Linked DNA regions of Homo sapiens. The main gene of each other region encodes a partner of the protein of the gene in region 2 in a complex. Each region holds a gene or a part of one and is shown on either strand. Other genes may lie near its edges. A codon is read from its position in the direction of its gene.

What was found.
Region 1: the proteins of SUMO1 (region 2) and SENP2 are in contact, whole or in part, in a crystal structure (PDB 1TGZ), measured with the Homo sapiens proteins. Residues at the interface, in NP_001005781.1 of Homo sapiens: Asn60, Arg63, Leu65, Glu67, Gly68, Gln69, Arg70, Ala72, His75, Glu89, Tyr91, Gln92, Glu93, Gln94, Thr95, Gly96, Gly97; in NP_067640.2 of Homo sapiens: Asp386 (codon at 345), Lys394 (codon at 369), Leu395 (codon at 372), Arg396 (codon at 375), Trp410 (codon at 417), Leu411 (codon at 420), Asn412 (codon at 423), Asp413 (codon at 426), Glu414 (codon at 429), Thr440 (codon at 2,194), Phe441 (codon at 2,197), Pro444 (codon at 2,206), Lys445 (codon at 2,209), Arg456 (codon at 2,242), Trp457 (codon at 2,245), His474 (codon at 2,296), Val477 (codon at 2,305), His478 (codon at 2,308), Trp479 (codon at 2,311), Met497, Gln542, Gly545, Ser546, Asp547, Cys548, Gly549.
Region 3: the proteins of SUMO1 (region 2) and UBE2I are in contact, whole or in part, in a cryo-EM structure (PDB 9B62), measured with the Homo sapiens proteins. Residues at the interface, in NP_001005781.1 of Homo sapiens: Gln29, Asp30, Ser31, Gln55, Gly56, Val57, Arg63, Tyr91, Gln92, Glu93, Thr95, Gly96, Gly97; in NP_003336.1 of Homo sapiens: Asp19, Lys48, Asn85, Cys93, Leu94, Ser95, Arg104, Lys110, Gln111, Leu114, Gly115, Glu118, Leu119, Glu122, Asn124, Asp127, Pro128, Ala129.

The regions. Positions count from the first base shown.
Region 1 is NC_000003.12:185,617,181-185,620,925, forward strand, and holds part of SENP2 (sentrin-specific protease 2), read left to right. Parts: intron 1-299; coding exon 300-431; intron 432-2,118; coding exon 2,119-2,322; intron 2,323-3,745. UniProt on the Homo sapiens protein: Protease that catalyzes two essential functions in the SUMO pathway.
Region 2 is NC_000002.12:202,231,928-202,235,672, reverse strand, and holds part of SUMO1 (small ubiquitin-related modifier 1 isoform a precursor), read left to right. Parts: intron 1-3,628; exon of another isoform or gene 3,629-3,745. UniProt on the Homo sapiens protein: Ubiquitin-like protein that can be covalently attached to proteins as a monomer or a lysine-linked polymer.
Region 3 is NC_000016.10:1,307,509-1,311,253, forward strand, and holds the start of UBE2I (SUMO-conjugating enzyme UBC9), read left to right. Parts: upstream 1-2,127; 5' UTR 2,128-2,265; intron 2,266-3,745. UniProt on the Homo sapiens protein: Accepts the ubiquitin-like proteins SUMO1, SUMO2, SUMO3, SUMO4 and SUMO1P1/SUMO5 from the UBLE1A-UBLE1B E1 complex and catalyzes their covalent attachment to other proteins with the help of an E3 ligase such as RANBP2, CBX4 and ZNF451.

The DNA.
Region 1 (3,745 bases), on a different chromosome or scaffold from region 2:
TTTCAGGGCTGGTGCAGTGGCTCATGCCTATAATCTCAGCACTTTGGGAGGCCAAGGCAGGTATTGCTTGAGCCCAGGAGTTTGCAACCAACTTGGGCAATATAATGAGGCCCCATCTCTATCACTAAAAATAAGAAAAAAATGTTTTCCTACTGTAGTTTAGTAGGTCTTTGATAGTATATTTTTCTCAAGAGTCAGGTGTTGCCGAGATGAAAAACTTTTTTCAGTCTCGGAGTTTTCAATAACTGATAATGAATGGTTCTATATTAAAATAGCAACTTCTGAACTTTCTAATTCAGGACATGGAAAAGGAAATCAGTAATGCCCTAGGCCATGGCCCACAGGATGAAATCCTAAGTAGTGCTTTCAAATTGCGAATTACTCGAGGAGATATTCAGACATTAAAGAACTATCACTGGCTCAATGATGAAGTAAGTTGTATTCCCTCCCCCTTTTGGCTATCATTAAGTTTATTTATTTATTATCTATAATCAAAGTGACTCCTACCCAGTTATAATGGGTTGGTAATGCAACTCTTAGTTATAATTAAAACAAAAACATTTTAAATCTTAAAAAGATGGTTAGTTCTGATTTTCTGCCTTTGATTAGCGATGTTTCCCTTTTCTGCGTCTGTATTTTATTGCATCCACCACTTCATTTACTGGTCTTCAATAAACCCTGGGTACAGCTGATAAACGGGAGGAAGCAGCAAGTGATACTGTATTTTAGGTGAATTCTTATAGTAGCTATTTTTTTGTTTTTGTTTTTTGGTTTTGTTTTTGAGACAGAGTTTTGCTCTTGTTGTCCAGGCTGGAGTGCAATGGCGCAATCTTGGCTCAGCGCAACCTCCACCTCCTGGGTTCAAGCAATTCTCCTACCTCAGCCTCCCAAGTAGCTGGGATTACAGGCATGCGCCACCATGCCCGGCTAATTTTGTATTTTTAGTAGAGACAGGGTTTCTCCATGTTGGTCAGGTTGGTCTCAAACTCTGGACCTCAGGTGATCCGCCCGCCTTGGCCTCCCAAAGTGCTGGGATTACAGGCGTGAGCCACCGTGCCTGGCCTGTTTTATTTTTTGAGTAATAAAGGGATATATTGATCACTATATACTATGTGTATTTTTCTTTGAGTGATAGCTGAAAAATTTTGCCTAACTTGTCATCTTGTATCCTTAATACATTTAGCAAAAGCTAACTCTTAAGTTCTTTGACAATTTTCTGGTGGGTTCTTCCCCGAACTGCTTAGCCCCTGCATGTTCTCTCTTTGAGGGAAGTCCCCTATGACTAGTTACTTATAAACACATTCTTTGAAAACAGGAATGTTTTGTTTTACATTATAAATGTAATTTGTTTATCGTAGAATATTTGGAAAATACAGGAAAAGTAAAAAATATTACTGTTCAAAAGTACCACCACTCGGCCGGGCGCGGTGGCTCACGCCTGTAATCCCAGCACTTTGGAAGGCTGAGGCGGGCGGATCACGAGGTCAGGAGACCGAGACCACCCTGACTAACACGGTGAAACCCCGTCTCTACTAAAAATACAAAAAAATTAGCCAGGCATGGTGGCGGGTACCTGTAGTCCCAGCTACTCGGGAGGCTGAGGCAGGAGAATGGTGTGAACCCGGGAGGCAGAGCTTGCAGTGAGCCGAGATCACGCCAGTGGACTCCAGCCTGGGCGACAGGGCAAGACTCCGTCTCAAAAAAAAAGTATCACCACTCAGAGATAAATAAAATATTATTTTGGTGTATGTCCTTCAAGTTAATATTTTAAAATTGAAGTCTAATTTATATGTAGTAAAATTCACTTACTGTTAATATTTCTGCGTATTTTTGGTGTGATACAGTTATGTAGATCTTTCCATTATTGCACAGACTTTCTTCCTGGATTCCTTCTTCTGGCTGTTAAGTGTTACTCACATGCCTTAAAAGTACAGTTTCATTTCATTTTCATGTGTCCCATTTTGCACTGATCACTTTTTTCCCTGTCTTCTACTATAGACAGTCTTTTTATCCTCTTCTTTAGTACCTTACCTTCGAATTCATCCTTATTCAGGTAGAAATTTAGTTTTGATAATATGTTTGCCATGTTCCAGCTTTTGCTCCCTTGGTATTTTGTAGGTCATTAATTTTTACATGAATCTTCTGGTGGAAAGAAATAAAAAGCAAGGCTATCCAGCACTTCATGTATTCAGTACTTTCTTCTATCCTAAATTAAAGTCTGGGGGTTACCAAGCAGTGAAACGATGGACCAAAGGGGTAAATCTCTTTGAACAAGAAATTATTCTGGTGCCTATTCATCGGAAGGTACATTGGAGCCTGGTGGTGAGTAGAGAGGGTTAATGGTTAATTGTTGGACTTGGATAAAGGCCATTTTTTAAAAATAATGCTGCCTTTTTCTGCCCTGTGTATAGAGGCCAATAGTATATATTATAAGCATACTCTGCAGAGTCTCTTTTTAGTTTTTTTTTTAATGTCCCATCCTTCACCCAACCCTTTTAGTTCTTTTTATTTATTTATTCTTTAAAAAATTTTATGTTTATTTTATTTTACTATTTTTTAAAATTACAGACCAGGTCTCGCTCTGTTGCCCAGGCTGGAGTGAACTGGTGTGATCATAGCTCATTGCAGCCTGGAAGTCCTGGACTCAGGTGATCCTCCTGCCTCAGCCTCCTGAGTGACTAGGACTACAGGCATGGTCCACCATGCTTGCCTAATTTTATTTATTTATATATTTGGAAAGATGGAGTCTTGCTATGTTGCCCTGGTTGGTATCCAACGCCTGGCCTCAAGTGGTTCTCCTGCCTCAGTTTTTCAAAGTGTTGGTATTACAGGTGTGAGCCACCATGCCTGGCCTTTTTTTCTTTTTCTTTTTCTTTTTTTTTTTTAAATTTTTATTTTTAGAGACAGGGTCTCATTCTGCCACCCAAGCTGGCATGCAGTGGCACAACCATAGCTCACTGTAACCTCCACCTCCTGGGCACAAGTGATCCTTTCACTTTAGCCTCCCAGGTAGCTGGGACTACAGACATGCACCACTATGCCTGGCTAATTTTTTTTAATTTATTTTAATTTTTTTGTAGAGACAAGAGTCTTGTTTTTTTGCCCAAGCTAGTCTTGAGCTCCTGGCTTTAAGCAGTCCTCCCACCTCAGCCTCTCAGAATGATGGGTGAGATGCCGCACCTGGCCTCCTTTTTAGTTCTTGAGTTGAACAACTTTTAGAAGGCTACAGGACGAAGTCCTTGTACTTGAGGAGCTTTTTTTTGTTTGTTTGTATGTTTTTGAGATGGAGTCTTGCTCTGTTTCCCAGGCTGGAGTGCAATGGCACGATCTCGGCTCACTGCAGCCTCCGCCTCCTGGGTTCAAGCAATTCTCCTGCATCAGCCTCCTGAGTAGCTGGGATTACAGGCACGTGCCACCACCATACCTGGCTAATTTTTGTATTTTCAGTAGAAATGGGGTTTTACCATGTTGGTCAGGCTCGTCTTGAACTCCTGACCTCGTGATCCGCCACCTCAGCCTCCCAAAGTGCTGGGATTATAGGCGGGAGCCACCGCACCTGGCCGAGGAGCTTTCATTTTTAACAGGAAAGAGTCTTAGTATGCATAAGGGTTATTTATATTTATTTAGTTTTGTTTACAAGATAGTACAGGTTTATTGCAGAAAAATGCATTTATAAGGCCAGGTGTGGTGGCTCATGCCTATAATCCCAGACTTTGGGAGGCTGAGGCAGGAGGGGTTGCTTGAG
Region 2 (3,745 bases):
TTAGCCAGGCATGATGGCCTGTACCTGTAGTCCCAGCTACTCAGGAGGTTGATATGGGAGGATCACCTGAGCCTGCGAGGTCGAGGTTGCAGCAAGCCAAGATCATGCCACTGTACTTCAGCCTGGGCGATAGAGACCCTGACTCAAAACAAAGAAGACCCAGTACAAGTTCAGTGTTGAGTGCTAAAGACTTAAAAGAGTTATAAAGCTGAACCCTTAATCTTAAGAGGTTTATAAGTGAGAACAAGAATCTCCAAATCCTGTACTGTTTAATATCAGCATGAGACTAAACCACTGTCCTAAGAAGACAACCTTAATTTGAATCAAGTTATTTTAGAGTGATGTGTTTTCTGAGGCAGCTCTCAGAAGGTTATTGTCTGGTGTTAAAATAGTGAAATTGAGTAATAACAAGGTTAAAATCGGTGGACATTAAATACACACAAGACTTCAATTGCTGGGTCCTCCATTGATTAATGAAAAAATGATTGTTTTTGGAATTTGAGTGAAACACTTCTTAATGGCTGAGTAGGGTGGCTTACGCCTGTAATCCCACCACTTTGGGATCACTTGAGGCCAGGACTTTGAGACCAGCTTGGCCAACATGAGGAAAGCACGTCTTTACTAAAAATACAAAAATTAGCTGGGCCTGGTGGCTCATGCCTGTAATCCCAGCTACTTGGGAGTCTGAGGCGAGAGGATCGCTTGAGCTTGGGAGGTGGAGGTTGCAGTGAGCGGAGATCATGCCACTGCATTCCAGCCTGGGCGACAGAGCAAGACTCTGTCCCAAAAAAAAAAAAAAAAAAAAAAGAAAAGGAAAAAAAACAAAAAACTTTTTTTTTTTTTTTTTTTTGAGACGGAGTCACAAAAAATTAGCCACCATGCCCAGCTAATTTTTTTGTATTTTTGGTAGAGACAGGGTTTCACCATATTGGCCAGGCTGTCTCGAACTCCTGACCTTGTGATCCGCCCGCCTCGGCCTCCCAAAGTGCTGGGATTACAGGCGTGAGGTGCCGTGCCTGGCAAAAAAAAAAAAAACACAAAAAAACCCACTTCTTTATAATTTTAACAATTCCAACATCATCTAGTAGATTTGTGTACCATTATTAAATAATCCTTTAAAATAAGTTCTAAACCTAAGGCCCATAGACCATAAAGACTGAAAGTTCGCTTACATTGTATGGAGTGTTTTGTGAGTATTTGTGCATACGTATTTTTTTTTTTTTAAGATAGAGCATTGCTCAATTGCCCAGGCTGGAGTACAGTGTGGTGTGATCTCGGTTACTGCAACCTCTGCCTCCTGGGTTCAAGTGATTCTCCTGCCTCAGCCTCCCTAGTAGCTGGGATTATAGACACATGACACCATACCTGGCTAATTTTTGTATTTTTTGTAGAGATGGGGTTTCATCAGGCTGGTCTCGAACTCCTGACCTCAGGTGATCTGCCCGTCTTGGCCTCCCAAAGTGCTGGGTTTACAGACGTGAGCCCAGCCATATATATATATTTTTTTTAAATAGGAGAAAGGACCCATAGTCTCATCAGGGGTACGTGATTCCTCAAAATGGTTAAGGACCATCCTTTAACCAGTAACAGAAATCTGATTGGGTGCTTTCCTTTAGCCCAGTCTCACCTTGTAGCAAAACAAAGTGCTCGTACAGAACCCGAAGCTTAATATCAAAAGGATAAGGGTAATTTGTACAAATATTTTCCCCTTCCTCCTTTCTGATATTTGAGTTTATAGTGTTTCTTTTTTATACCAAAATCATTAAAGGTAGCTTGGTCAGCTCTTCAATTCAAGTCTGTTAATTGTAGCAATTGGATGACTGTTCCACTCTAACTGAATCTGTATTAACACCCCCAAAGAGAGATTGAATGATTTCCTTTTATCTTTAGTCAAGGATTTGGAAGCATTGTGTAATTCTGATTATCTGATACATTACCTCAAAATTTTGTGACTTAAAACAACAGCCATTTATTTTGTTTATAAATCTGCAATTTGGACAGGGCTCTGTGGATTAGACTCACCTCTGCTTCTTGGTGTGTGGGGCCTCAGCTGAGATGACTCAAGTGGCTGGGGGCTGGAACAGCTAGTTGTCAGGTGAGATGAGACTGGATGGGGCAAGTGTCTCCATATAGTCTCAGAGCCTTTCTTAGTGGTTTCATCATGTGATGTCAGCATGGAGACCCCAGGGTATTCAGACTTACGGCTCAGGGATCACAGAGAGAATAGGTGTTCCAAGAGAACCTGGGTGGAAATAGCAAGTCTCCTACAACCTAGCCTTGGAAGTCACGTCTGTAATTCTGTTGCCCACTCAAATCACTAAGGTCAGCCAGATTCAAGGGAAAGGCATTTATTTAGACACTGTTTCTCAATGGGAGAGTAACAAAGAATTTGCAGTTATCTTTAATCTACATTAATTGTATTTTTGCTGCCATGATAGTATTATTCCCTGCAGTGTTCTATATAGCTCCCTGCTATTGATTTTTACTGATTTTAGAAATTCTTTGCTTGAGATAGCAGGAGAATATGATGAACTGGTTGTGTATTAAAATTCATAATTGTGTGTACTACTATTTATATCATAGAATAGATATGTTAAACTGTAGTTATTACTTGAGTATGTAGTTAAGCATTTCATGCCCTAGGAGAAGAAGAATACTGTGTCCGCTCTGATAGACATGAGGTCCTGCTAGTGGATGTTACAAATGTATAGATTGTAGCATTATCTAAACAAACTTTACTAGTAGTTTAAAAATTGAATATGAATGTTATGATTACTCATTAAGATTTAGTAGTTCAGATTTAAAAACTATTAAGTAGTTGTCAACTCATGACATCCTTTAGTCCCGAAGGCAGTTAGGGTATCTCTTTCATAATTTTTACATGTAATGTTACAGTTATTTACGTTCCTTTTTTTTTTTTTTTTTTGAGATGGAGTCTTGCTCTGTGGCCCAGGCTGGAGTGCAGTGGCATGATCTCGGCTCACTGCAACCTCTGCCTCCTGGTTCAAGTGATTCTCCTGCCTCAGCGCCTCGAGTAGCTGGGATTACAGATGTGTGTCACCACGCCTGGCTAGTTTTTATATTTTTAGTAGTGATGGGCTTTCCCCATGTTGGCCAGGTTGGTCTTGAACTCCTGACTTCAAGTCATCCACCTGCCTCGGCCTCCCAGAGTGCTGGGATTACAGGTGTGAGCCACCGCGTTGCCAGTTATTTACATTCTAAGTGTCTTTTCTCCATTACATCAGGCTTTATTTATCCTCTTTTTCCTGTAATGCTTAGCACATTGAGTGGATAATTAGTAAAAAATTTTTTAAAGGAGAGTGGCCAGATTCATTCAACAAATGTTTATTAAATGTCACAATGTTCACAGCATGATTCTAGGCCCTAGAATTGGAAGGTCGCCTCAAAAACATGAAACAGCAGGTACCTTCCTCCTCCTCTTTCAGTCCTCTTGATGTTGTTTTGTTATTGAGGCAGGGCTGGTTGCCATGGAATAGTTTTTCTCTTATGATATTTTTGCATACCTTCTTCATCTTTACTTCTGTTAGCAATAGACCTGGTAACTATATCCAAAGTTGAATCATTTACTTCTTCCAGGACACTGGGATTGTTAAGGATGATTTTTTTTTTAAAAAATGAAAGGTCTCACATATTTATTACTGAACCTAGCCAACCAACACGTTCATAACAGATTCAGAGAAAAAAATATATTCCCAATAAAACATGTCCAACTCTCTAGATAGTG
Region 3 (3,745 bases), on a different chromosome or scaffold from region 2:
AAGGAGGGAATGAGTGAGTGAGGGAGGGAATTAATGCATGAGTGAGGGAGGGAATGAATGAATGAGGGAGGAAGGGAATGAGTGAGGGAGGGAATGAATGAGTGAGGGAGGGAATGAGTGAGGGAGGGAATGAATGAGGGAGGGAATGAATGAATGAGGGAGAGAGGGAGGGAATGAGGGAGGGAGGCAATGAGTGAGGGATGGAATAAATGAGTAAGGGAGGGAATGAGTGAGGGAGGGAGGGAATGAATGAATGAGGGAGGGAGTGAATGAATGAGTGAGGGAGGAAGTGAATGAGGGAGGAAGGGAATGAGTGAGGGATGGAATGAATAAGGGAGAGAATCAGTGAGGGAGGGAGGGAATGAATGAGTGAGGGAGGGAATGAGTGAGGGAGGCAGGGAATGAATGAGGGAGGGTGGGAATGAATGAGGGAGGGAATGAATGAATGAGGGAGGGAATGAATGAATGAGGGAGGGAGGGAATGAGGGAGGGAGGGAATGAATGAATGAGGGAGGGAATGAACGAATGAGGGAGGGAATGAATGAGGGAGGAATGAGTAAGTGAGGGAGGGAATGAGTTTGTGAGAGTGGGAATGAGTGAGGGAGGGAGGGAATGAATGAATGAGAGAGGAAATGAGTGAGGGAGGGAATGAGTGAGGGAAGGAATGAATGAGTGATGGAGGGAATGAATGAATCAGTGAGGGAGGGAATCAGTGAGGGAGGGAATGAGTGAGTGAGGGAGGGAGGGAATGAATGAGAGAGGGAATGAGTGAGGGAGGGAAGGAATGAATGAGGGTGGGAATGAATGAATGAGGGCGGGAATGAATGAATGAGGGCGGGAATGAGTGAGAGTGAGAATGAGTGAGTGAGGGAGGGAATGAATGAGTGAGGGAGGGAATGAGTGAGGGAGGGAATGAGTGAGTGAGGGAGGGAATGAGTGAGGGAGGGAATGAGTGAGTGAGGGAGGGAATGAGTGAGTGGGAATGAATGAGTAAGTGAGGGAGGGAATGAGTGAGTGAGGGTGGCAATGAATGAGTAAGTGAGGGAGGGAATGCGTGAGAGAGGGAAGGAATGATTGAGTGATGGAGGGATCGAATGAATGAGGGAGGGAGGGAATTAGTGAGGGAGGGAGGGAATTAGTGAGTGAGGGAGGGAATGACGGAGTAGGGGAGGGAATGAATGAATGAGTGAGGGAGGGAATGAATGAATGTGGTCACTCCCCGCGGTCCCCAAGCACCCGGACACCGTGACCTTGGCTGCGGCCCCGCCGTCGGCGAAATGCGGGCGGGGGGGCCGGGAGAGCCCGGGGGCCAGCACGGTCGCGCGTTGGCGAACGGACTGTCCCGCGCGCTCGCGGGTCTGGGGGCCTCCCGACCCGGTCCTGCTTGTTGCGTGGGCGGGAGGGGGGACCGGAAGCGCCCCTCCCCCACGGGCTCGCCCCGCCCCCGCCGCTCGCGGTCCCCCACGTCCCGCCCGCGCCCCGGCCCAGGGCCAGCCCCCGGTTTAGGGAGCATCCACACTTCTCCTCCCGTCGGTCATGCTCGCATTCGGCCTTTTGTACGGGGTCAGCTCATTGGGCGGATGAGAAGGTGTCCCCGCCTACCGCCCCGAACTGGCCAATTGCAAGGGGTTTCACAGGGCGCTGAACTCGCGGGAGCGTCACCGTCCTGCGACGCTTCAGAGGATCCTTAGGCCTCAGTGGTCTTTGACCCCCGGCCCCAGGACCTGACCCCAAGGAAACCTCCGGGACCTGTGGCTGGAGAGGTGACCGCCAGGCATCCGGGGAGCCTTTGGAGATCTCGGCTTCCTTTTTCCCCCGCTGCTTGCCGGCGTGTCCTCGGGTGGACGCGGGCAGCCCGAAGGGGAGTTTACAGACGCTCCCTCACATCGGGGACGCGGCTCCTTTAAGGGCGTAGGTGTCCAGGGCGCCGCCTGACTGGAAAGTCGCCCCCCGGCCGGGCTCCTGGGGCGGACCCGGGGCGCGGGCGCGCGGCGGCGGGGCGCGGGCAACGGGGAGCGCTCGGCGGCGCGGGAGGCGCTCGGGGCCGGGCGGCAGGAGCGGCGCGCGAGGCAGGCGTGCAGAGGGCAGCCCCGCGTTAGGCCCCGCCCCGCGCGCCCCGCCCGCGCCAGGGTCCTCGGAGCTGCTCTGGCTGCGCGCGGAGCGGGCTCCGGAGGGAAGTCCCGAGACAAAGGGAAGCGCCGCCGCCGCCGCCCCGCTCGGTCCTCCACCTGTCCGCTACGCTCGCCGGGGCTGCGGCCGCCCGAGGTGAGCGCGTGCGGGGGCCGGGCCGGGGCCGCGGGGCGGGGGTCGGGCCGAGGCCTCTACTCCTGTTGGGCCCGGGCCCCCGACTGCCCCGCGCCCCGCCCCGCCGAGCCGGGCCCCGCGCCGCGGCCGAGCTTTCCGGGGAGCCCGAGAGGCCCCGCGCTCGGCGCCGGCTCGGTCCGCGCTGCTGGCGCCGCTGGGCTGCGGCCCGAGCGGCCGGGCCGCCGCAGGCCTTCGGGGCCGGGGCTCCCCCACTTCGCCCCCGAGGTGCGCCTGGCGCGGGGCCGGGGCAGCCACCTGCAGCCGGGGCCCCGCGAGGCCGCGCCTTCCTCCTGCGCGGGGAGCGGCTTCCGGGGTCACGGTCGCCCCGCGGACGGATAGGATGGGCCGCGGGGGGAGAGTCTTGGATTGCAACATCGCTGGCTCGCGGGGGTGGGGGCCGGCGAGCGGGCTTGTTTTCGGTGCCTTAAAACCAAAACAAGTGTAAGTTTTCTTGTGCCTCTGAAGATGCTCCGCTGGCGCTTGCTGGGGCCCTGAACGTGAGCGCCTCGCTGGAGGGGGAGTTTTATTCTGTTTTGGACATCTCTTTTTATCGGTTGAATAGTAGTTGGTTCTGGTAGTTAACGTGCGTAGGAGGAATGTAAGGGAATGATTAGTTGGGCTTGTGATCGTGGCCTGTAGTCACGCTTGAATCGCAGAATGAAGTGGTTTTGTTTGTATAATTGGAAGTTACGCTTAGTTTCTCTGTTTGCAAAGTGCCTGTCTTTGGGGAGTTCGGTTTGTTTCCTTTTACAGGACCTACCCCAAGTGTTTCTTGCTCTTCAAGAAACGTTGCCTTTGGGTAGAGAACCTATGCAACGGAAGACGGGACGGATCCTCAGTTTGCCCTGATTGCTCATTCAGAGAGGTCCGTTCCCTAGGCCACTGGGTGATTGCTGGTGTGCGCTTGTATGGTGTCTCAGGGTTTGGGATCTTGCTTCAGAAACATTCTCGGGGCCTGGGGCAGATCAGGTGCGGCCAGGTAAGCGTCTCCCGACTGCAGGTGCTTGGGTCTTGCAGAAGGGAATACCTCCCCAAGCCTGGGAGAGTTTGCATTTGGGTGCAGGAGGGCCTTTAAAGGCTTCTTGTGCCAGCCTGTCGTGGCGACCACCCGTTGTGGAGATCAGTGCGGTGGAGTTGTGGGAGGTGAGTGCTTTGCTCACCCTCAGCCAGGAAGTTGCTCTGAAGTCGGTGCTGTCAACCAGCAGAGCAAGGCGGTGATCCGAGAAGCTAAAGCTCAGCCGGTTGCGGGCGCCCAGCAGGAGGACAGAAGGCAGACTTTCGGGCCGCTCCTGGAGTGCCCGGCCCTGTCCCCGTTTCTGCAGTGTCTGGGCCTTGCCTGGCTCTAATAGATGAGGGTTGTTTTTGTCTTTGCATCATAAAAGTTTCTTGCTCTGAAGCGTTTAGTAACTACTAGCCGTTCACTAAGTGCCTATCTGTGAAT